3 separate regions of the Homo sapiens genome follow, and regions 1 and 3 are each linked to region 2. Evidence: fine-mapped expression QTL. A gene starts in region 2. Each other region holds a variant in brackets. All regions are shown on one strand. Distances are between the middles of the regions. Region 1 overlaps RNASEH2B (ribonuclease H2 subunit B). Region 2 holds the start of RNASEH2B (ribonuclease H2 subunit B). Region 3 overlaps RNASEH2B (ribonuclease H2 subunit B).

What was found. PIP is the estimated chance that this variant, and not a neighbour inherited with it, causes the effect.
Region 1: its variant is fine-mapped to the expression of RNASEH2B in whole blood (INTERVAL, PIP 0.96).
Region 3: its variant is fine-mapped to the expression of RNASEH2B in whole blood (INTERVAL, PIP 0.97).

Annotation. Positions count from the first base shown.
Region 1 is chr13:50,931,536-50,939,720 of GRCh38, forward strand. It overlaps RNASEH2B (ribonuclease H2 subunit B), which reads left to right. Exons shown (of 11, transcript NM_024570.4): 5 at 3,350-3,464. Among named protein-coding and RNA genes, the nearest start is that of RNASEH2B-AS1, 25 kb to the left of the region's middle. The variant T/G (reference allele first, on the strand shown) is at 3,296.
Region 2 is chr13:50,905,297-50,913,481 of GRCh38, forward strand. RNASEH2B (ribonuclease H2 subunit B) reads left to right here and starts at 4,495. Exons shown (of 11, transcript NM_024570.4): 1 at 4,495-4,844. The coding sequence starts at 4,781. RNASEH2B-AS1 (RNASEH2B antisense RNA 1) reads right to left here and starts at 5,416. Exons shown (of 3, transcript NR_046552.1): 1 at 5,187-5,416. RefSeq lists silencers at 4,310-4,739, 4,750-4,989, 5,200-5,249.
Region 3 is chr13:50,945,781-50,953,943 of GRCh38, forward strand. It overlaps RNASEH2B (ribonuclease H2 subunit B), which reads left to right. Exons shown (of 11, transcript NM_024570.4): 8 at 2,207-2,288; 9 at 3,683-3,725; 10 at 8,125-8,163. Among named protein-coding and RNA genes, the nearest start is that of RNASEH2B-AS1, 39 kb to the left of the region's middle. The variant A/G (reference allele first, on the strand shown) is at 5,110.

The DNA.
Region 1 (8,185 bases), 26 kb after region 2:
ATCTCTTTAGTGTTTGGCTTAACTAGAAGACAACTGGATTCTTATATCTGATTCTGCATTCAGTCTGTTTCCATATGTTATTTTGGTAGGATTATATGAAAAATATGCGGCCCCATACATCTTTGTAGTTAGAAAAGGAAGAAATAATGTTACAGCCTTTTTAGATTATTGTGGATATTCTTCTTTAATACTGCCTAAAAAATCAACAAGTAGTTTTTTAAAGTTTAGTTGCAATGTGAAATGTGAAACTTTGTCAGTTAACTTTCTATGCTCTGTTACATTAAAATGCATTGGTCTATCTTGCACTTAAAATGGATCTTTTTACCAGTGTATGATTTTGTAACATCATGCTTTGGTCATTTGGAAAATATTGATTTGCTGAGTTATGCATATCTTCCAAATGTTGACACATCTCATTTTACACACACACACACACACACACACACACTCCCTTTTGTTAATATTACCACTGATCTCATCAGAAAGCTCTTTAGGTATTGAGAAGCTGTCATAGTGGCAGATAGAAATTTTCTACAATTCTAATTTTTGCTTGAAAGCTCAAATTTTATTATTGGCCGCAAATATTGTCAATCTTTCCCGTGAAATGACAGGCTCACTTCGTTCATATTCTGCCTAATACCGGGGTCTGAATCACCGTAATTCATAGTGGGTTTTTCAAATAAAAATGATATCCATGAAAAAGCAGCTGGTTCTGCTTGCAACTCAGCCAGCCCCAGGAGAACATGCTCTTCCTGGTAATCAGCTTATCTTTGGTTAAGCAGCCAAAGGCCTTTAGCCATACCTCACTTTCATCACAGATAATTTACAAGACTTGTGTTCAAGGGCCAAGATTTAAGTAAAATTAATTGCTTTTACTACTTGCTCAAGGATATTCTTAAGTGAAACTGGCATTTTTTAAACTGCACATAAATGGCGGTGAGGATCCAAATGATGACTAGGACAGTCTGGTGCCACCACCAGACTCGTGCTAAAGAGCCAGCAGTTTTACCCACCATTGCATTTGAATCATCTGTGCAGATGTCCACACAGTGAAAATGCAGATAGCGTCTTAGCAGTATTAGGAAAATAGCTTTGAGCTTAGGTACTTCATGACCCAGGGATCCATCAACCATAGTTGGAAAATCTTTTAATTAATAACTTTGAGTGATAAGTGTCACTCAAACAGCTTAGAAGAATCTGGTTTTTTTGGACTCTCATGTTTGCATAAAGTTTGAACACTTATAAATTTCTTACTTAATCCTTAGATCAAATTCCTGAAACCTCCATTTGGTAGGTAAATTAATTTAAGTTGCTGTAAATACTGAAAGTCATAAAGTATCAATGCATGTTTTCTCTTGATGCAGCTTAGCCTCTTTTAGCCTCCTCCTTCCCTGCCCTCCGCCCTTCACTGTGAATTAGTGAAGTTTTATCCCTTCGTTTAATCATGTGTCCCATTATCTGGAAGCTACTGTGATGGCCGGTATAACGAGGGCACACAAGCTGTGAGGCTGGTAAGCCTCGTGTCTTTAAGGAACAGAAATGGTCCTAATCACCACCAGGAACGCCCTGGGGAATATTCAGGGAGGAATTTGTAAACCTCAGTGGCTCACCTATGTGGTGTTTTCTAGGATAAATTAATGAGCAGAAAGACACCAACCAGCCTCAGCAAATGTATTGATCTGCACTTAAGGCTCCCCCTCCCCTTTTTGATAGCATTTCTCCATCTCCCATTAGGACCATGACTCTGGGGGATTAACCCTGTCTTGGCACTCTGGGCACCTCCAGGGTGCTATGGCGAGCTCACGTTGACAAGTGCAGAATGAAGCAGAAATGCTGTTCAGGGTGGCCTTTGGCTTTCATTTTAAACCGTCGTACTTCCCAAACACGTCTTCCCAAGTGCCAAAAATGCCCTTTAAAGTAACATTTGAGATGTTTAGGTATTTCCTTCTCTACATTTTAGACATGATCATTTCCTATTTAGTTAAAAATTATTGATACACACTTTTGAAATGTGACCTGTTCTTTTAAACTTTATTTTAACATCAGTAAAAATAACTTTTTTTCTAGGTATCCCACTGCTACTAGCTTTATAGTCAAGGCAGGTTGCTTATTGCATTTCCTTCAATGTATATATGGTAAATAAAAATAAGAATGAAACACTAGTTAATTACAAAATTATTTTATATCATGATTGTATGGTAGTCCATTACATATAAATATTGTTTTAGAGTAGTCAAATATTTAAGATATTGATTGATCATGGAAGACTATAGATTTAAGGTAGAAATCTAAAGACAGTAAGACTTGGGAAAAATCTGTGCATTATTCTTACTATTTGAAGGAAAAAGAACATTTAAATTGAGATAGTTCATGGCACTAGTTAACCTAAGAGAAAGTATGGCAAGCTATCACGTGTTCTTAAATGATTGAGAAGATTTTACCCTTAAAACCCAAGAAAGCTGCATTTGCAGAAATTGATCAGATGCAGTTTTTGTGTCTTCAGGAGGAGTTGTCAGTACACGAGAGGTAGAGCGAGCTAGAAGTGGGTCATGGGCAAGGCCATACATCTGGTACAGTCTGGTGTCCCCAAATCAGGGGGCTAATACCTTAATTTAGACAAACTTCACCTCTACTTGCTACTAGTACAGTTACGAAAAACTAGACCTAATTCCAAAGAATGATGTTGTGAATCCATATGGTCTGCACTTCTGGCCCACTGGCAACCAGGCCATATAAACTTCTGTGGCTGAGCCTGATTTAGCCTGTCTGCAGCTTCCCATGACTTCTCCCTCTGGCTGTCTTTTCTTTTATTCTGGTCTAAATTTGGAAGCATTGTGAGGCAGCTTTGACAGGGGTAGATTCACTTTTGTATTTTCTTTTTGTGGCGGGTGCTTCTTTCATCATCCCTAGAGTGATGATGGGGAGGCAGATGTATGTCTGGGCCTGGTCTGGGCTTGTTCCAATGTGACAGTCAGGACTCTTGCTCTGTGACCACAGCTGGTTCTTCAAATTGAATGGGTTGGACCATCCCCAGGCAGTCTCCACCATCTTTGCAAGCTTCTGTGGCTTCCAGTGCTTTTGTAGATTGATTTTCTTCCCCATTTCATTTGGGGACTGTACACCCAAGGTAGATGGTGTGCTGTGTGGGACTCCAGTGCTCACAGGAGCTTCCTGAAGGGAGCTGGGGTCCGTCCTAGAGCCTGTCCCATTGTAGGGATTCCTTAGATGGAATAGGTGGCTTCTGCACTAAGTTTAAAGGCCCAGCCATGAGTTAATGTGTCTTTTTCTCTTTTTT[T/G]CTGAATGTCTTTGTTGAATGAAATGCTTGCTTTCCAACTAACTGTTTTTTCAGGGGAAGTTTCAGCCCCTTGATCAAGTTGTGGTGGATAACGTGTTTCCAAATTGCATCTTGTTGCTGAAACTTCCTGGACTTGAGAAGTTACTTCATCATGTGACAGAGGAAAAAGGTATGGTATAACTTAAAGGCTTATGGCTGGTAGAAAGGATGGACCTTGCCTAAGAACGTGGCTGCTTACAGACACACTGAATGTAAGGCTTATTCTGTGTCCACCATAGGGAAAACTATCATTCAGATTTGCTAACACTGCCAGCACTGTTCCTCTATTGCTTTGGAGTGTTTAGTCTTTGGAACTACAACCATGGCAGTCTAGGGCCTACGTCCACAGGGCAGGAATCACAAGGTGTGGCTTCAGTCTCACTTCTTCTTTGAACTAGTTCTGTGACATCAGGCAAGTCACTCAGCTGCCTTCTGCCTCAGATGTCTCATTGTAAAATTACGTAAAACCTGTACCTTAATAGATGGAAGCATTTATCGAGCACCTTCCAAAAAGCATATGTTGCACATTAGTGCTAAGCTCTAGATACTTATGAATAAGACATTGTCCTTTTCTTCACTTTGCGCCCAGTCTGATGGGGGTCAATGACAAGCTGAGCAGTGACCGCACAGTGTAACGGAAGTGAACTCTGAATTTACTGGGGATGCACAGGACAGGTTTCTAATCTGGCGGGGTTGGGTGGGGAATGTAGGTGGGTAGATGTTGTGTTGCTTTCCTGGGGGAAATGACCTCTTTATGGAGTCCTGAAGGATAGTCAGAGAAGCAGTGTAACAGAGGCTCAGATGTATGGAAAAGTTTGTCAGGTTCAGGAAGTTCCAAGGAGTTCAAAGTATAGGATTCTGGGGAAGGATGTAGGTTGGTAAGGAATGAGGCGGGAATGCTGGGCATGGGTCCAGATGGTAAAGGGCCCTGTGTGTGTTTGGACTTTGCTTAATGGTAGTGGAGTGTCTGTGAAGTTTTAAGCATGGCAGTCTGCAGTGTGGAGAGTATATTGGAGAAGCCAGGTCCACCAAGGCTGTTGCAGTGATCCAGACAGGAGATAATGGTGGCCTTGATCTTAGGAGATAGAACAAGAAGAAAGTAGCCATTTAGAGATGGACCCAACTGCATCTGGTTGTTGGGTGGTGGTCAAGGAGAAGGAGGAGTCAAGAGTGACTTCTCGGTTTGTGCCTGACCCAAAGGATGTGTAGTGGTGGGATCCTGGACACAGGGAACATGGGCTGGAGGAGCAGGATAGGGTAATGAAGAGATGCGTTTTCACTATCATTCATTTAATTTTTCAGAGGGAAAAGTAAGGCAGTGTGTGTGAATGTGTTTTGACAGGTTAGAAATAGTATAAAAACTTGGCTTTGGTGTCTTAAAAAATCATCCAAGTAGTTTCAGGGTTAATATGGAAACAAAGTGTGGGAACCAGAGCATCAGGCTGATAAGTTGTGGCTGTTTGGGTCATAGATGGTTTGGCCAACTATGACAGTTCTTCTGGGACCAAGAAAGTGGTGATTCCAAGAAGTGTAAGCTTACAGTGGGAAAGAGAAGAACCTTATTGATTGCATTTTATGTTTAAGGGGTCCAGTAAATTCATACTTGGCCACACTTGGAGCTCCAGTTTGGAACTGAGGGGTATATGGTGCCAGGGTTTTATCAAAGCAGTTCCATTAAAGACATTCCCTGATGCTGAGTTTGGCAGAAGACAGCAGTCTTTTTGTGGGTGACCTGAATTAGCCCATAACCACTTTTAAAAGATAAAGTAATGAAGAATAATTTAATTAAGCCATGTTAATTTTTGTCAACTTAATGCAAGCTGAAAATGCAGTTAACTCATTGTCCAGAATTCTGCTATTAGCTGTATAAGAACAATCATCTTAAAACCCAGAAATCCAGATTTAGAAACAATGTTAGTGCCTCAGCATTTGTTTCCTTACAGTCTGCAGCCGAGAGCAAGAGGCTCTCTCTGTGTCATCCCTTCCCTCTTGTACACCGAACTCCTGACCATTTATTGCATCATTATCTGAACTTGTCTTAGTCTCCTTTGCTTCTCAATATTGCCTAACTTTTGGAAGTTCTGTACTTCCATTTTCAAAGTAGCTATATTATTAGCCTTTATATTTGCCAGATTTCAAAAACCCTAGGCCTCAATTTTTTTCTTTATTTTTAAGTGATGGGCAAAACATAAAATACTTTAGAATAAATTTCACACAGTAAAAGATGTATTCAATCTCTAGAGGTTTGGCAGTTTCTTTTTATCAAATTCTTCCCTTAATAAGCTGCAGCCTGTGAATCTCAAAATAATGGAAGTTTTAAAAACAGAAAGAAAAAGATTTTTATTTTTATTTTTTTATTTTTATTTTTTTAAGACAAGGTCTTGCTCTGTTGCCCAGGATGGAATGCAGTGGCACAATCACGGCTCACTGCAGCCTCAATCTCTGGGGCTCAAGCAATCTTCCTACCTCAGCCTCCTGAGTAGCTAAGACCACAGGCACAAGCCACCACACCTGGCTAATTTTTTCATTTTTTTTGGAGAGATGAGGGGGTCTCTCTATGTTACCCAAGCTGGTCTTGAACTCCTGGGCTCAAGGGAACCTCCCGCCTCAGCCTCCTAAAGTGCCGAGATTATAGGTGTGAGTCACCATGCCCATTCTCAAAAAGATTTTTAAATGGGGGGAAAAATACGTAAGATTCTCAAATGCCTCATCCTTAAGAAGATATTGGAAAATCAAATATCTAAAAATTAAATATATAAAACCTAAGCGGGCTTTATTGCAAGAATTCATAATTGGTTGAGCATTTACCATAATTTACCATATTTATGCATTACAAAATTGTATGATTATCTCAAAAGACACAGAAAAGGTATTTGATAAAATTCAGTCATGATATATATTATCAGCAAATGAAGAATAAAAGGGAACTTCCAAGGGCATCTATGGCAAACTTAAACAGCTAACATCATCTTCATTGTAAAAGACTGAACACAATCTTCCCCCAAGACTGGATACAAGAGAAGGATGCCTGCTCTTACCACTTCTATTCACCATGTGGTGGATGTCCTAGCATGTGCAATAAGACAAGAAAAAGACATACAGATTGGAAAGTCAGTAGTACAACTGTCTTTATTCATAGACAATATTGTCATGTATGAAAAAATCCAAAAGAATCTACAAAAGAAGTTACTAGAATTGATAAGCAAAGTTTCAGGATACAAGTTCAATATACAAATATTAGTTGTGTTTCTATATACTGACATTGAACAATTGGATAATGGAATAAAAACATACCATTTATACTACCATTAAAAATAACATTCTAGTGCTAAATGTAACACAATATGTTCAAGACCAATATGCTGAACATTACAAAATATTGCTGAGAGAAATTAAAGAAAAATTAAATAAATGGAGAAATAGGCCATGTTTGTGGATTGGAAGACTCAATATTTTTAAGGTATCTATTTTCCCCAAATTACACTATAATTACACTATATAATTACATTATAGATTCAGTGTAATACTTAGCCAGCTCCATTTTTTTTTCTTTTTTTTTGGTAGGTATTGATAAACTGATTCTAGAATTTATATGACTATGTAAAGCAGCAGAAGCAGCAGTCTCCAACCTAATTTTGGCAGCAGGAACTGGTTTTGAGGAAGACAATTTTTCCATGGATGGGGCAGGGAGGGGGATGGCTTTGGGGTGAAACTGTTCCACCTCAGATCATCAGGCATTCGATTCTCATAAGGAGCACACAACCTAGATCCCTCGCATGTGCAGTTGACAATAGGGTTCGCACTCCTATGAGAATCTAATGCCATCACTGTTCTGACAGGAGGCAGAGCTCAGCCAGTAATGCTCACTTGCCTGACACTCATTCCTGCTGTGTGGCCCAGTTCCTCACAGGCCATGGATTGGTACCAGTACATGGCTTAGGGACTGGGGAGCCCTGATGTAAAGGACCTATAATATTCAAAACAATTTTGAAAAAGAAGAATTTGGAGAACTTACACAAACTGAATTAAAGACTTACTATAATCAAGAAAATGTGGAGATCAGGCACAATGACTCATGCCTGTAATCCTAGCGGTTTGGGAGGCCGAAGCAGGAGGATTGCTTGAGGCTGAGAGTTCGAGAACAGCCTGAGCAAAGTAGCAAAACCCCATTTCTACAGAAAGTTTAAAAATTAGGCAGCTGTGGGCCAGGCACGGTGGCTCACGCCTGTAATCCCAGCACTTTGGGAGGCCAGCGCAGGTGGATCATGACGTCAGGAGATCGAAACCATCCTGGCTAACACGGTGAAACCCTGTCTCTACTAAAAAATACAAAGAACATTAGCCAGGTGTGGTGGTGGGCACCTGTAGTCCCAGCTACTCGGGAGGCTGAAGCAGGAGAATGGCATGAACCCAGGAGGCAGAGCTTGCAGTGAGCCAAGATCGCGCCACTGCCCTCCAGCCTGGGTGACAGAGCGAGACTCTGTTTCAAAAGAAAAAAAAATTAGCCAGCTGTGGTGGTATGTGCCTATAGTTCCAACTATTTGGGAGGCTGAGGAGGAAAGATCACTTGAGCCCAGGAGGTCGGGGTTACAGTGAACTGTGATCACACAATTGCACTCCAATTTGGGTAACAGAGTGAGACCCTGTCCCTAAATTTAAAAAATAAATAAAAATAAAATAAATTTGGTGTTGGTATAAGGATAAATATATAGATAAATGGAATAGAATAGAGAATCTAGAAATAAACCCACACTTATATGGTCAATTGATTTTTTTTTTCCAAAAGTGTGAAGATAATTCAGTGGGAAAAAGGATAGTCTTTACAACAAATGTTGATGGAAGAATTTGGTA
Region 2 (8,185 bases):
TATCCGCATAAATATTTACTCAAAAAATATTTGCTGAGCACATGCTATGTTTCCATATTATTTTGTCCCAGGCATGGGGACACCAGGGAGGGAAGGAAGGTGAAGAGCCCAGTCTCTGGAGTCCTAAGGCCTGGGTTGGAATTCCTGCTCAGCCACTTGCTAGTCATGTCATCATAGGCAGGTACTTGATCTCTCTCGACTCTACATTCTTCCTCTGTAAAATGTGGGTGACTAAATAATACTTACCCTTAATGCTGTGGGAGGGCTGAAAGAGGTCATTCGAGTTAACTGCTTAGTGCAGTGCTCAGCATAGTTAATACTCAGTGAAGCCATTGTTATTTTTTGACAAGATAGTGGTGAATTACTAGATGCTATTCTTCCCTCAAGGAACTGACTGGTTCCTCTCACTGGTGAAATTGGAGGCATCTCACTTATTCTTGGGAAGAGTATTAGGAGGCAGGAAGAGAAGGCACTTAGTAAGACCTGATGGATGAGTGAGAGTTGTCCTGGCAGTGGTAAAGGGTAAGGGAGAAGGGAAGGAATGATGCTTGTGGAGAACAGGATGGTCTCAGCATTGGGGACACAATACCAAGTGCTAGATGTGACAGAGAAGAGAACCACAGGCAGTTCCTTGTGGCCACACTGTGGACTGGGTGGAGAGCGACATAGGTGGTGGGAACTGTAGCTGGGGAGTCCAGCCAGGACCGGATCTCAAGGGCCATGTGTTCAAAGCTTAGCACCTTAGACTTTACCTTGAAGACAACAGGGATCTGGAGTCAGCCTATCAGTAATGGTATCCTTTTCAAAAAGGTACTTACATAATTTTTTTTAATGATAAAGGAAATTATTTACAGAAAGGGCAGAGTTCATTGTTTTCTCATTCACAGAGTATAGCAACCGTTACCCGTACGAGCCTGGGCCTCTCATTTAATTTCTCCTGCCCCTCATTCCTTACCCATGCTTTCTCCCATTCCTCTCCATATTAAAGACACCCATATTTTATTTAAGTCCCAGAGTATATGTGCAGGATGTGCAGGTTTGTTCCATAGGTAAACGTGTGCCATGGCAGTTTGCTTCACCTATCACCCCATCACCTAAGCATTAAACTCAGTATGCATTAGCTCTTTTCTCTAATGATCTCCTCCCCGACCACCCTCCGCTTACAGGCCCCAGTGTGTGTTGTTCCCCTCCCTGTGTCCATGTGTTCTCATTGTTCAGCTCCCACTTATAAGTTAGAACATGCGGTGTTTGGTTTTCTGCGTCTGCATTCGTTTGCTGAGGATAATGACCTCCAGCTTCATCCATGTCTCTGCAAAGTACATGATCTCATTCCTTTTTATGGCTGCATGGTATTCTGTGGTGTATGTGTACATTTTCTTTATCCAGTCTATCATCGATGGGCATTTGGGTTGATTCCATGTCTTTGCTATTGTGAATAGTGCTGCAATGAACATACACATGCATGTATCTTTATAATAAAATGATTTATATTCCTTTAGGTATATACCCAGTAATGGGATCGCTGAGTCAAATGGTATTTCCAGCTCTAAATCTTTGAGGAATCACCACACTGTCTTCCACAATGGTTGAACTAATTTACATTCCCACCAACAGTGTAAAAGAGTTCCTATTTCTCCCCAGTCTTGCCAGTATCTGTTGTTTCTTTTTTTTTTTTTTTTTTTTTGAGACGGAGTTTTGCTCTCGTTGCCCAGGCTGGAGTGCAATAGCGCGATCTTGGCTCACTGCAACCTCTGCCTCCCAGGTTCAAGCAATTCTCCTGCCTCAGCCTCCCGAGTAGCTGGGATTACAGACACGCACCAACACGCCTGGCTAATATTTTTTGTATTTTTAGTAGAGATGGGGTTTCTCCATGTTGGTCAGGCTGGTCTTGAACTCCTGACCTCAGGTGATCCGCCCACCTCGGCCTCCCAAAGTGCTGGGATTACAGGCGTGATCCACCGTGCCCGGCCTCATCTGTTGTTTCTTGACTTTTTAATAACCACCATTTTGACTGCCATGAGATGGTATATCATTGTGGTTTTGATTTCCATTTCTCTAATGATCAGTGATGTTGAACTTTTTTCATATGTTTGTTGGCCACATGTATGTAAAGACACCCATTTCTTTATGTGCTTGACATGGCCTTAAATATGCATGTATCCTTGTAAATTACATCGTGTTGTTCTTTGTGCCTTTTAAATTTACCTACATGGTATTCTGCTAAAAATAATTTCCTGCATCTAAATTTTTTTCTTTAGATACAAAGCATCTGTTTGTATATGTACACCAATCACTGTGTCAAACTGCTGTATACATAGCCCATATACAATACACATGGTAGCATTATTTATAATAACAGTTTGAAATAACCTAAATACTGCACACTAGGGAATGGATAACTAACCCTAGTACACCAGCTGTGTTAAATATCATGCCTTCATTAACAATGATACTTCTCGATATGAAGGGGCACATGCTTATGACAATGTTAAGTGAGAAAAGCAGACAAAACAGTCTAAATTGTGACAACAACCACAAAAATATACATTAATACAGCCAAGGGCTAGAAAGGATCAGAGAAAAATGAAACAGGTATGTATGTCTGAGCAAGGGAATCATGGGTAACATTTCTCATGTACAGTAGCTCCCCCTATTCGAAGTTTCGCTTTCCAAGGTGTCAGTTACCCCCAGTCGAACTTGGTCCAAAAATATTACACGAAAAATTCCAGAAACAATTCGTAAGTTTTAAATTGTACAGTGTTCTGAGTGGTGTGAAGAAATCTTGCACCATCCAGCTTCGTCCTGCAAAGGACCTGAATTCTACCTTTGTCCAGCGGATCCACACTGCAGAAGGTCCCCTCCTTATGAGTCACTTAGTAGCTGCAAGAGTAGTGATGCTGGCATACTGTGAGAATTGTTCTATTTTATTATTATTGTTGTTCATCTCTTACTGGGCCTAATTTTCAAATTAAACTTTATCACAGATATACATGCAAAGGAAAAAACAGTATATTAGGGTTTGGTACTATTTGCGGTTTTAGGCCTTCACTGGGGGTTTTGGATCCCATCCTACAGGAATAATGGGGTGCTCCTGTAGCTGTTAGTAAGACGATGGTGTGCCTGGGGATTTGTGCTATACACCACAGCATCTTCTACAGTCGTTTTGGGGGAGAGGGAAGATCAGAGCAGTACCAATCTGCTGCTCCTTGCCCCAAAACTGGCAAGAGGCGCCTTTCCTCAGCCAGAAAGGCCTCTTCTCCACCAGCTGTGTCCTGCAATCAACTGCAGCTGTATTGGTCTCACCCCATGGGAAACAGGTTTGAAGTTAAAAACCTTTTCAGAGGGCCGAGATAAATTTAGTGCTGCTAAATTTAACTATCTTCAAGATTAAACATGAAAAGCAAAGTGCATGAGTTATGTATATTATTCTTTCAATTGTGCAAAAATAAGACATTAACTTGTTTTTGCATGGAAAAATTCTGCAAGAATAGAGAAGAAATGTTAACAGTTACCCCTGGGATCTGGGATAAAAGAGATACATCATGCTTTTCTTTAAAAAAAAAAAAAATAGGTTTTTGTGGATTTTTTTGTTTTTGTTTTTTTTGACAGAGTCCAGCTCTGTAGCCCAGGCCAGAGTGCAGTGGTGGGATCTCGGTTCACTGCAACCTCCATCTCCTGGGTTCAAGTGATTCTTGTGCCTCAGCCTCCGTAGTAGCTGGGATTACAGATGTGCACCACCACACCCAGCTAATTTTTGTATTTTCAGTAGAGACGGAGTTTCACCTTGTTGGTCAGGCTGGTCTCCAGCTCCTGACCTCAGGCGATCCGCCCGCCTCGGCCTCCCAAAGTGCTGGGATTACAGGCCTGAGCCACTGCGCCTGGCCCGTGCTTTTCTCTAAAGTATGAAAGGAATATGTACTTTCTTCTTAAAAACCATGTACCAAACAACACTTTTCAATTAAAATGTTATTTTTAAAAGTTTAAATCCCCAAATTTCATGGCTCTAACTTTTTAAACATCACTTTTTAAATAAATGTCTAAGTTTTTAACTCAGTATACAGCGTTCTCCAAAACAACAAATTCATATTCTGAGCCCAAAACTGTGCACCTCTTTTAGTGATGAGGACGGAGTCCAAATTGAGGACATCCCTTGTAGCTCACAATGCACACATATTCTCACATCAATAGCAACACAGAATGCAACTGATGACCAATATATATTCACAAATAATTGAGGACCATGGCTAAGAGTTGCATTCGGATTCCGATGTGACTGCTATTGTCCTTAACACGGACTAGCTCCAGGTGAGTCCCCCGGCCCCGGGGGTGTGGCGGGCGTCACCCGTTGTCCGGGCACACACCCCGCAGACCCAATCCTAGCCCGCTGGCTAGACCATGGAGGGCCGCTGGGTGCAGCCACAGAGCGCGGGGCCCCGGCGACCCCGCCCCGCTCCGCGTCACTCGGCGCCCTGCGGCGCGCGATGAGCACCTACCACTAGCGGAGCCGCGAGGGAGAGGCCGCGGCCCCTTCCCGTTGCCTGCGGCCACCGGCCGGCATTCAGAGCCCCTCGCCTGGCGCTAAATTTAAAAACGTAACACGAGCAGCAGGCTGGTCTCGGAAACGAAACGAAATTCGGTCCCTGGGCCTCCTCCCGGGCGCTGCCGGTCCCTCAGCGCGCCGCGCCACCCGGAACAGACCCTTCTCCCGCCATTTTCGGCGGGGCTGGGAGACTGAGGCCCGCGGCGCTGAGCCTGCGGCGCCCCGGAAGAGGCGGGCGGCATGGCCGCTGGCGTGGACTGCGGGGACGGGGTTGGCGCCCGGCAGCACGTGTTCCTGGTTTCAGGTAAACACGCGCGCCCGGGCGGCGGGGTCGGCCCAAGAACTGGCGGAGCGGCCCGCGACCCCGGGCGCGCCGCCCCCCACCCCGGTGGCTCCCACTACCCGGCCCGGCGCGGGATGGGATTCTCTCTGGGACAGCTGGCCCCGCATTTTGGTCACACGTCATAGCAAGCCGCGGTTTTCAAACCCGGAAGCGCCGAAAAGGACCGAGCGTGTTTCCCGGGCCCTGATCCCCGGTGGCTCGGGTGGGAGGGTGGAAGCCGACTCAGCCTGAGGGGAGCCACGCGGGTTCGCGGTCACCGGTGCGCTGCGGGCCCCGGAGGTTTCTGCCCTTGGTGTCCCCTACCTGGCAGCTGGCCCTGCTTCTGTGATCCTACTGGGTTGGAACCAGGGATCCAGTAGGCTCGAAGTGGCCTCAGACGGTGCGCAGTTTTAAGAAAGCAAAGGGACAGGCCTGCAGTGGCGAGGCAGGAGGGAAGCGGGATGGGAGTCGCGGTTAGGCCAAGGGTAGTTCAAAGCGATTCAGCAGGATGATGACCACAGGAGTGCTGGAGCCGGGCCTTTCAGCCCCCGTGTGGATGATGACCGGCCATCCAGGACATGCGAGGGCTTGGGACAGTGGACAGCCAGTGCCACACAAGGAAGGACCGATTAAATGACACAGTTAAAGGAATTTGGCCTAGGGAGTGCAAGCCAGAAAGGTTTGGTCTTTTTATATATGTAACATTGGAAAAAAGGAACATCTCCTGTTCCCTGTATTAAGTTTTGACTTTAGCTCAGCAAATGCAGTGTTTGTGGCAGTAAATATACTCTGATAACAATATTCTTTCCCAGGAATTTAGAGTTTTATGATGGTTATTGAAAATGTTTACATGACAGGCTGTCAATAATATTTTTTGCCTCTAAAAATAAAACATACATAAAGTGTACGGATTTTAAGTATGCAACTCACTGAACTTTTCATACGTATACACCACCCTAGTAACCATCCCCCAGTTCAAGATGTAGACTGTTTCCAATAACGCCTCATGCCTGTTCCTAGATAGCCCCAGGAACCTCTATGCTGACCTCTGTCACCAGAGATTAGTTTTGCCTGTTTGAATAAGAGTGTACCCTTTGTGTCTGGCTTCTTTCACTCTGAAAGATTCATCCTTGTTGTGAAATTCATTCATGTTGTAGCAGTTGTTTGGTTGGTTGGTTAGTTTTTTCATTGCTGCTTCTGTTTAATTGTATGAGTATCCATACTATGTATCTCTACTGTGGATGGACATTTGGGTTGTTTCCAGTTTGCAACTATTACAAGTTACACTTCTCAGAGCATTCCTTTAGGCGGCTTTTGGTAGACATGGGCACTCATATCTCTAGGGTGTATACCCTGGAGTGGAATGGCTGGTTCTAGTACTTGTGTGTAGAGCTGTAGTTGACAATGTTAAATGGTTTTCCAAAGTGGTTATACTGATTTATATTCCCACAAGCAGTGTATGAGAGTTCCCATTGCTGCACATCCTCGGTAAAAACGTTTGGGTGGTAAAACAGCTAATGCAAAATTCAGGGTTTTGACAGAATCTCGCAAAGGGCTACCCGTATACATGCTTTTCATTAGAAAAATCATCCTTTCTTCTCACTTCGTCACATCAAGACAATTAGATTTTCAGAGTAGGAACTCTAATCATTCTTTCAGAATCAAGTGCATTATTGTTATTTCAGATATACACAATAGCTGATGATAATTTGAGCTTCTTATTTTGTTGTTCTGTTTAATCAGTATTGACATCGTCATTTTATACGTGTGTTTGTGTCCTTGTATTAAACACAAAACCCTCAAAAGAATTAAATATTGATTGTATCCCTGAAAATTGTAGGTTTTAATATATCTACTGCTGGGTTGTGGGAAGAGTTTCAGTTGAGTTTCTGTTCAGAGCTGAGATCTACTGTGACCTTTTAAGGCATTGGGGGAGGCTGAGCAGCTGTTGGAACTGCTAGAAAGAGCTGTGTGGTCAGGGGGGCAGGAACTCTTAACAGTTAAAAACTTGAGCTACCAGCTCCTGCAATTCTTCCTTCTGGCCTTTAGCGCCACCTGCAGGCTCTGAGGGTACAACAAGGTTTGACAGCGACTGCAGTGCAACACTAGTTCTCAAACTTGAGGGCATCATTTACCTGGGGAGCTGGGCCTCAGTTCCCAGAGGTGCTGGTTCAGTAGGTCCTGGGCTGGGGCCAGAGAATGTGCATTGGTAACAAGTTCCCAAGAGATACTGATGCTGCTGGTCCGGAAACCACTGCCCCCACCCCAGGAACCACTGCAGTAAAGACTTTGGGAACTAGATTGGGATATAAGAATGACAAGCCTCATGTTTGGCCCTCTTTGTGGTGGGCCAGAATTTATATGGTCAAGGAAGTGCATGTAAGTGCAGAGTGTGAGGCTCATCTTCCCAGATGTAGTTGTCGTCTTTTCCAGAAGATGAGAAATCAGCCTGCTTAGTTACCCATTCGGGAGTTGGAAACGATATGCCCTTGGCTGAGGGAGCACCATACTCCAGTAAAGCTGGGCCCTTAATAAAGAAAACAAAGATTATTAAACATTTTTCAAAAGTATTTGGCGGAGGCGGCTTGTATTCGGTTTTAGAAAACTTGGGATCTGAAGAACTTACTTTGTGTACTGAAAAGTGAGCACATGAACCCACAGGCCAACAGAACTTTAAAGGGATTTATCCGTGAGACAAGGGTAAAGATGCCTAACCTTGCAATGATACTTTTTTCCAACATTTAATTCATGCTGTTCATCGAGTTGCCTGCCACAGCACTGTGTTATATCTTGAAGGATATATTTAAATGTTTGATTTAGGTATCTTTGCCTCTAGTTTTCAGTTTGTTTGGAGAAGCTGGCTATCTCAGATAAACAAATCTGGAACTTGGAAGAGATACTGTGAGATATGCAGACTTGGGACGTTGGTTTTCATAGGCTGGTGAAGACAGAACCATTTCCCATTTCAGCAAGGCAAGCATTTCTTTTAGTTTGGGATGGTCTTAAATGTTTCTGTAAAATGGCCTGGGAATACTAGCCTGTTTGCAGTTTTAATTTCTATAAGAGGCCATTACTTTACTTTTTGGAAAGTAGTATAAGTTTCCATCCCTCTTTTTCTGCCCTAAAAGTAAATGTTTGAGTCATATTTTTAATGTTTTTCTTAAGTCCATTTTTCTTGTTAATGCTACTAAGTTGGGATGTACCCAGGTGTGAGAGGTCACCTGATTCATTGCGTTTAGAAGACTGCATTTATTGCTGTTGGGGGCTGAACAATTAATTGGGTTCATCTCCAAGGAAATGTTAATTGGGAAACCCTAACATTG
Region 3 (8,163 bases), 40 kb after region 2:
AACAACCCTGGCTATCATTTATTGAGGGTGTATTGTGTGCCAGGCCCTTTGCTAAGTTGCCACTATACAAACATGATCTCATCCAACCCTCCCAGTAAATTTCATAATGAGCATCTTGAGGCCCTGTGCAAAGTCTCACAACTAGTAAATGCCAAAGCTGAGCTACTTATGGAGCTTGTCTCTGAAGCCCACACTTGTAATCTTTTTGTGATACTGTTCCTGTGGCACAGTTGTACTGTTCCAGTGGCTGCATCTGTTTGCATTTTCTTCTCAAGATGCATGTTTCCTGATACAGGGATCAATATATTTTGATTTTAGATGAAAATTGATTTACTTGGCAATTTTTCTTTTAGGTTATTCTTTTATAATCTAAAAAAGGTATATTATTTTCTTTTCCAAGTAGAGTCCTCTTATTTTTATATGTATAGTTGAATAAGAACAGCTATATAATGCAGTTAACAATCTCAAATGGTGAGACAGAAATTATTCTGACGTTAAACTCCAATTCATTGTTCCCTTATTCAGGGTATACATATGGCTTTAGTCATTACATAAATAAAAACTAGGAATAGTGGCCTGTTTGTGATTGATAGTAATTCAGGCAATCTGATTTGCAGGAATCTACCTTGCATGTATAGGTAGTTGGCTACTGCCATTCTGGGAGTGGTGGACAGCACCTTTGCCATACTGAGTTACCAGCTGTCAGTGTCTTTAATTGGCTTTAACAATAGAAGATGAGGGATTGAGATAGATGATTAATGGATAGATAGGTGGGTGGATAGATGCATCCATGGATGGATGGATGGAACCATAGATTTTGTTTTAAAAGTAGGAGAAGGGATGTTAGAGGTTATTTAGACAGATCATCTCATTTTTTAAATGGAGAGGTAGGTAACTTATCCTCAAGATCTTCTGTTCTAAGTCTAGTGCTTTTACCAGTACTCTACATATTAAGGTTCTGGGCTTGGCTATATTGCCATTTAGTGTCCTGACCATAAAGTAAACTTTACATATTTTACATTATTTCATTTTTTAGATATTTAGGTTGGTTTGGTACCAGAAGCAGCAAATGAACTATATGTTGACTTTCTTAAAATAGTTTTCTTGGTCTAGTCATGACTCATTGGATAATGACTATCCCAGATCCATGAGCAATTTTAAGAAGGGTCAAATGATAACTTTCAGTTCTCCATTGACAATGAAAATCTCTTACTGAAGACTTTTTGACATCAGGTGGTCCCCAGACGGCAGTCATTTTCTATGTAATACTGAGGCAAATTGTTACTTTGACTTGAGAGCAGAGGAGAATGGAAAAAAGGAAGTGAGTGAATATCCCAGCAGCAAACCTGGGGTCTGCTTTTGGTGCTTTATATCCCCACGTGGTTATCCCATCTTATGATTAAGTTTGATTATCTGCTTGTATTCTACATAAAATACTGAATTCAGGAACAGAGTTTTGAAACATTTTATTGTCTTCTTATGTAACTGTATTTCTAATTGCTGCCAGAGCTGCATTTTAGTACTGAGAATCCAAATGCTTTAGAATTAATGATGATAAATTCTGCTGAGTTAGTTGTTTAAGTTTAAGTATTTTATTAGTTTGGGAGTGTGTGTGTGTGTGTGTGTGTGTGTGTGTGTGTGTGTATGTAGAACTATGTATATAGAACAATATGTATGTATAGAACTATATATATATATTTCAGGGTTCTTATAAAGCAAATACCTAGTAGTAGAGACATGGTATTTTATTTCTCTTAAATGAGTACACTCATTACTGTTGAATAATTAGATTTATTCTTTATTGAAGCAGGCTTAGAAAAGATTACCCTTTTAAAAAAGACATGACTATTTCATATTGTTGTAGATGATTTTTAAACTTTATTTGTATTCAGTGGTTTCAAATAAGAAAGCAACCCTGAGTTTTTGTTTTTAATGTCATTTAGGGAGCATCTACTGTATTATACTTGTTTTATCTTATATCTTTGGTATCATCACATGTCATATCTCATCCCTCATATCTTCCCACTAGTCTGACCGATAGATATTACTATCCCCATTTTACAAATGAGAAAACTGAGGCTAGAGCTTAAGTGAGTTCCCTTTATCCAGATAGGGTCAGAATTTGAATTCAGGTCAATTTGACTATAAAACCACCATAATTACTATTTTTTTTTTTTGCTTTCACTCCTCCTTCTGTTTCTTTCAGAGGATTATATTCGTTATGCCCATGGTCTGATATCTGACTACATCCCTAAAGAATTAAGTGATGACTTATCTAAATACTTAAAGTGAGTATTGATTATCTTCAGTCATAATGAAGTACCATTTGCTTCTTGGTTTCCCCAGCAGTGGGGTTTCCTTATGGCTTATCATATCACTGTTTATGATACAAGATTATTCTTCAGCTATGTCATATACTTTGTGCTTTGGGGATGATTTTTAATGGATGATTGGAATGAACTGATTTGATGGATACGGATTGCAGGAACTAGTGAATGTCAAGATTGGAATTATGGCTTGGTCTGATTTTAGAGGATTAACTATGTTAAAATTTTATCCTCAATTATACTTAACTAATTTGGTTCTTTGTGATCGTTTTAAGAGGAAGAAAGGAGGGATGGAAAGAGTAGATGGAATATAGACTTTTTTTTAATTTACAAAATATTGATATCATTTTCACTATTATCACTAGATGTTCACTAAAGGGACTTTATGCCAAAGACTTGGAAGTCAAAGTAATATGAAACACAATCTGTGTCTTTGAGGGGCAGAAGAAGGGTTTTAAGAATGGTTTAATGTATGTTCCTTTCTTTATAAAGAGCTTATACATTTAGACTTTAAGTTGAAAAAGAAGTGTTAGAAGTGTTTATTTTCTAGATTTTTGCAAAATCGTTACTTAATTTTGTTGTTAAGATTTTATGTGTGTGATGATTTAATAGCTTTTCCTGATCCTTATAAATCCTTTTTATCCTCTGAGTCATGAAGATAAAATGACTTTTTAATAGATACAGTTGTTGGTTTTAGCAAATTCCAGAGGTCCTACTTTAAAAAACAATGATTGGAAACTGGTTTCTATAATAGTTAAAGTGTGCTGAAAGCCTGCTTCAAATTGATAATCATATCCTTCTGCTTAATATATCCCCAGATTTCTATGCTGCTTGTCTTGTTAGAGACCTCATGTCTTTGTACTCCATTGTTTGTATAGATTCCTTTCTTTCCACTAACATTTTTAAGTTTTGGTTGAAGAGTTCAGAAGAAAGGTATGCCAATTAAACTGCTTTCTAATGGAAGAAAAGTTGAAATTTATGTGGCTTTTTGTGAACAGTTAAAATGATTTTCACCTTTAAATATATGTTAGCATCTTCACTATGAAGAAAAAATACTCCAACACCGAAACACAAATTTATAGAGGCTAAAGAAAAGGAACTCTGTTCCAACAGATGGGTTCTAATTTTATTTTTTAGTTCAGACAACACCAAAACAAGGACTTACATATCAAAATAAAGACTCATTTATTGAGAAAACTTTCATTCTTTACACTGAGTTGATTGAACAGGAAGATATATGGAGGTAAAGCTGTAAGTTGAAAAGTAGGACTTACTAAGTCTTAAGTTGGCCCTGTCTTTCTGTTTGTTTGTCTATGAAAAACGATGACTTTGATTGTTATTTTTAACTTTCTTAGGCTTCCAGAACCTTCAGCCTCATTGCCAAATCCTCCATCAAAGGTAAGAAGCTGTGACTAAGATATCTTTGGGGGACTTAGAAAAATATTACACTCTTACCACATGAGTTTAGTTGGTTCTAATATATTTTAAGGTGTACTAAATCCATTTTGCATGGAGTGATGCCATGTGGAATAAAGATTGTACTGGGCTCTCCATCACTATTTTTTATTTTTGTGGATTCCACCTGAATGGTAAATAAAGTGCCATGAAAACCCAAGAAGAGTTGGTTTTAGCAAGGTACCCCTGTGAAAATATTAAAGACATATAGTTAAAATTAAATCTTCCTGCATTAGTTAGATCACTTAATTAAATTTAGTAATCACTAAGCATACTCTATATATAACTAAAACTCATTTTGCCAAATCTAATTGTCACTGGCACAAAGGTGAACAGAAAACAATTTCCATAATACAAAGAATCCTTTGAGCAAAGATGATCACTTTTTTTCTGAATTTGAAATGATTGATGAATTTACGTGTAATCTTTGTTAGTGGAAAATCTTTTCCTCATTCATTCTCAGGCTGCTACCCACAGCTCCTCTGCAGCTGGTATGTTTATCTCCTAGATCCAGAGAATGGAGAAGCCAATCATAAACCACACCTGACTGCAAATTGCAGCGTTCCTTCAGCCCAGGCCAGATCTCAGATGAGTTAAACTCTGCTCCAAGACAGGGAAATAAACATGTGCACCAGCTTGTCAGTGAGGTCATTTCTTCAGCCAGCAAAGTAACGGATGCCTTGAGAATGTAAAATGGACATATTGTGGATGTTACAAACTTTCCTTCTCCCTTGCATTGTTTTCTTGGCCTTCAAGGTAGCTAAAATGCTCATAATTTTTTATGTCATTCCCTGTATAAAGGTGGTGGTGGCTCCAAAGACATTGTCCTTAGAAAAGGACAGAAAATTGAAAGTACAGCAGTGTTTGTTTGGGCCTATGTTCAGCATGTTGTCAAAAAAAAATGCATGTTTTACTCTCTTGGAGAATAGCACTGGGCAGAAGTCTGTTGCTGTAAGATCTAAGGACTGCTCTAGGCCAGACCCATGCGTCTTTCATTCCGGTAGTTAATCTCTGACAGTAGCTCTAGAGGACCTAGAGAGGCACAGTTGTCTTGCTGAAACTAAGAGGGTAGGTTCTCAGCGTGCTTCTTATTTTTCTTCATCCAAAAATGAAGCAGATTTTTTTCTCCCAAATATCTATCTTCCTTAGTAACTTAGAGATCATTCATGAATTGATCTAAACCTATTCTTGAAAGCTTTAACCTTGGATACCTTTTGGAGTAATATGTTTCATAACTTTATTCTTCTCTGCTCCTGATTTCTGTTTTCTTATTTTAATTTTCAGAATTTAAGTTGTTTGTGACTTCATCATTTATGATTTAGATCAG[A/G]GATCAGCAAACCTTTTCTTCTAAAGCCAGACAGTAAATATTTTAGGCTCCATGAAGCAGATGGACTCTATTGCAGCTACTCAACTCTGCTGTTGTATTGTGAAAACAGCCACAGATAATACATAAACGAATGAGCATGGCTGTGTTCCAGTAAAACTTCATTTATAAAAGCAGGCAGCCAGCTGGATTTGGCCCCTGGGCCATCATTTGCCAAGCCCTGATTTTGATTTTGGCATCTTGCTCTTCCTAAACCCCAGCCTTGTCTTCTATATTATTTGAGTTGCTTTTCGAGGTCTTCTACTCTGTGTCTTTCTGGGGTTCCAGTGTACACATGACAAACTATACTAGACGATGTACCATCGTTTAAACAAGCGTAGAACATATCTTCTGCTAGCTTTCCTGTCTGTATCCAGGATTTGATTGATTTTTACAGTAATATAGTTGACTGTTTCCAGGAAATATATTCCAGTAGTCATTAGGTATCTTTGTATCTATGTTGTAATCGATAGCGTGGAGCCTGTCATCTTTAATATGTTTTATATTATTTTCCTTTACTATCATATGTCTGCCTTTGTTGAAACTCAGCTTCCAACCCTCACTTGCTCCAGTCTTTTCAATTTGTCACTGTCAGCAAGCAGAGTTGAATGCAACCAGTGGGTTTGGAGATGTTCCCGAGTTCCTTCTTGCAAATCATTTGTAAGAAGGCCTAACATTATCCCTGTGGTACTCTGCAGTTTGTTCTCTTTCCAGAACTGTATCCATTTAGTCATAGCCTTTGTTACTGTCTTTCTGAGCCACTTCTCTGCTGAAACAATCTCCCAAATCCATAGGGATTTGGTCTTTTAAATAACAAAAATTTTAGTAAATGCTTCAATCATCTTTTTTTCCAATATATTCAACAGTGCACTGGGAATAACATACAAACTAGTTATATGTAGAGGCTACCACAATCATTTTCTTTTTTTAAACACTTGTAACTGGTATCTTGTTTTGTTGTGAGCTATTAAAACACCTGAACAAGTCATTTCTCCAATTAAACATTTTATGTCCATACAAAAGTACCTTTCATCTTAAGTTCTTGTAATGAACACTTTTTATTTGAATTATCAATGAAAAGTGAACCTCATCAGTTCAGTGGCACACACTTGTAGTCTTAGCTACTCAGGAGGCTAAGGCAGAAGGTCGCTTGAGCCCAGGAGTTCAAGGCTGTAGTATATGATGATCGCAACTATGAATAGCCACCGCACTCCAGCCTGGGCAACACAGTGAAACCCTGTCTCTAAAGAAAAAAAGGGAATAATGTCTAAGTGTTTATAATGACATCTGTGTTAGGAACATTTTGCCATAGAGAAGGAACACAAGCATCCTCATAACTTCAAGCTTTTTGTGTTTTGAAAATATTTTGGCCTTCAGCATTATTAGCTGTGAGTTTCACCCTCCTAGCTGAAGATACCTTTCTAGTAAAAAATGTGCATCACCTAAACACCCTTTGCTGTCTTAATTTAAATAGAAACATGTATTTTTTTTTTTGAGACAGAGTCTTGCCGTGTCATCTAGGCTGGAGTGCAGTGGCACAATCTCAGCTTACTGCAGTCTCTGCTTCTCAGGTTCAAGCAATTCTTGTGCCTCAGTCTCCGGAGTAGCTGGGACTACAGGCACATGCCACCATGCGCAGCTAATTTTTATATTTTTATTAGAGATGGGGTTTTGCCATGTTGGCCAGGCTGATCTCCAACTCCTGGCCTCAAGTGACCGCCCACCTCGGCCTCCCAAAGTGCTGGGATTACAGGCATGAGTCACTGCACCAAGCTGAAACATATATTCTTAACAAAGTTGCAAATATACATTCACTTGGTGCTGATAGGTGGTTCATTTGTGATGGATTAGTCTTTTTCTTTTAATGATTCATTTGCTAGAGGTTGCTGTGTGGCCAAGAGGTTTTCCTATAGTGTGTGGTATATTCCCAGGATGAGCCTCTGTTTTTTTACAGCAAACAATTTTAAGACATGGTGTTTTATCCTCTTGGGTTATGGGATAAAACACCATGGGCTGTGGAATCTTTTAGCACCAACTCTACCCGTTCTTTGTTTAGCAAAGCAGGGGCATGAAGAATGAAGCTGGGAAGAAGTCTGTTTCCTAGGTTAGATCCATGTTGGGTCTGGTCAACCTGGTGTCTCCATAAACAGCCTGAAAATTATAAAAATCTGGGTTGTGATCACCATGCAGTCAATTCTCCATGTTCAACAGCAAGACTTGTCTTCCCTGCTTTTGTACCTTTTACATAATAAGTGTGGCATGATTTCTTCTATATTGTGATCATTAAGGCCTTGACAAGATTCTCACATTCACTGGTGTAAAATGTTCATGTGAAAGGAGAAAATATTAAGTAAAGGTCTGACTTAGTTGCATTGGGCCTAATGGAAAGAACACTGTATCAGAATTGAAATCTTGGCCAAAGTCCTCTACTTGGTGACCTTAAGCTATTCATTTAGCCTCTCTGTGCTTCCCTCTCTTACTGGCTGCTTGCTTGTGCAAGGTTGTTCTTGCATGGATAAAGTAAGATAAATATTGTCCCTTCATTCATAAGTGGACATTAAACTGGCCCAGGAGGTAAATGAAATAGGGATTCTGGCTGGACACCTGGCCCCCTTCAAGAGACTATTCTCATTTTGACTTCTGTGCCTTGCATTCATCTGGTAATTAGCAATCCCCTCATGCCCACCACACCTGGCACCTACAAAGCCTGTGTTTGCTGGACCAGCTAAGGGGCTCAGCCATGTACTTACCCAATCATATCCACCATCACCAAGGCTGCTTCTTAGGAGTGATGTGTGGCTCAATTCCCTAGATGATTGGCAAAATGTAAAGGAGCCTGTAAAAAGTAAGCCCTTTGCTGGGTCTGCTGTCCCATTCGCCTCTGTAGAGGTCTAAATTATACATGTTGGGTTTTTTTTTAATGGATTGATGTTGTGTCAAAGTGACATTTGACACCACTTCACTGCTCTAATGTTGCAGAAAATAAAGTTATCAGATGAGCCTGTAGAAGCAAAAGAA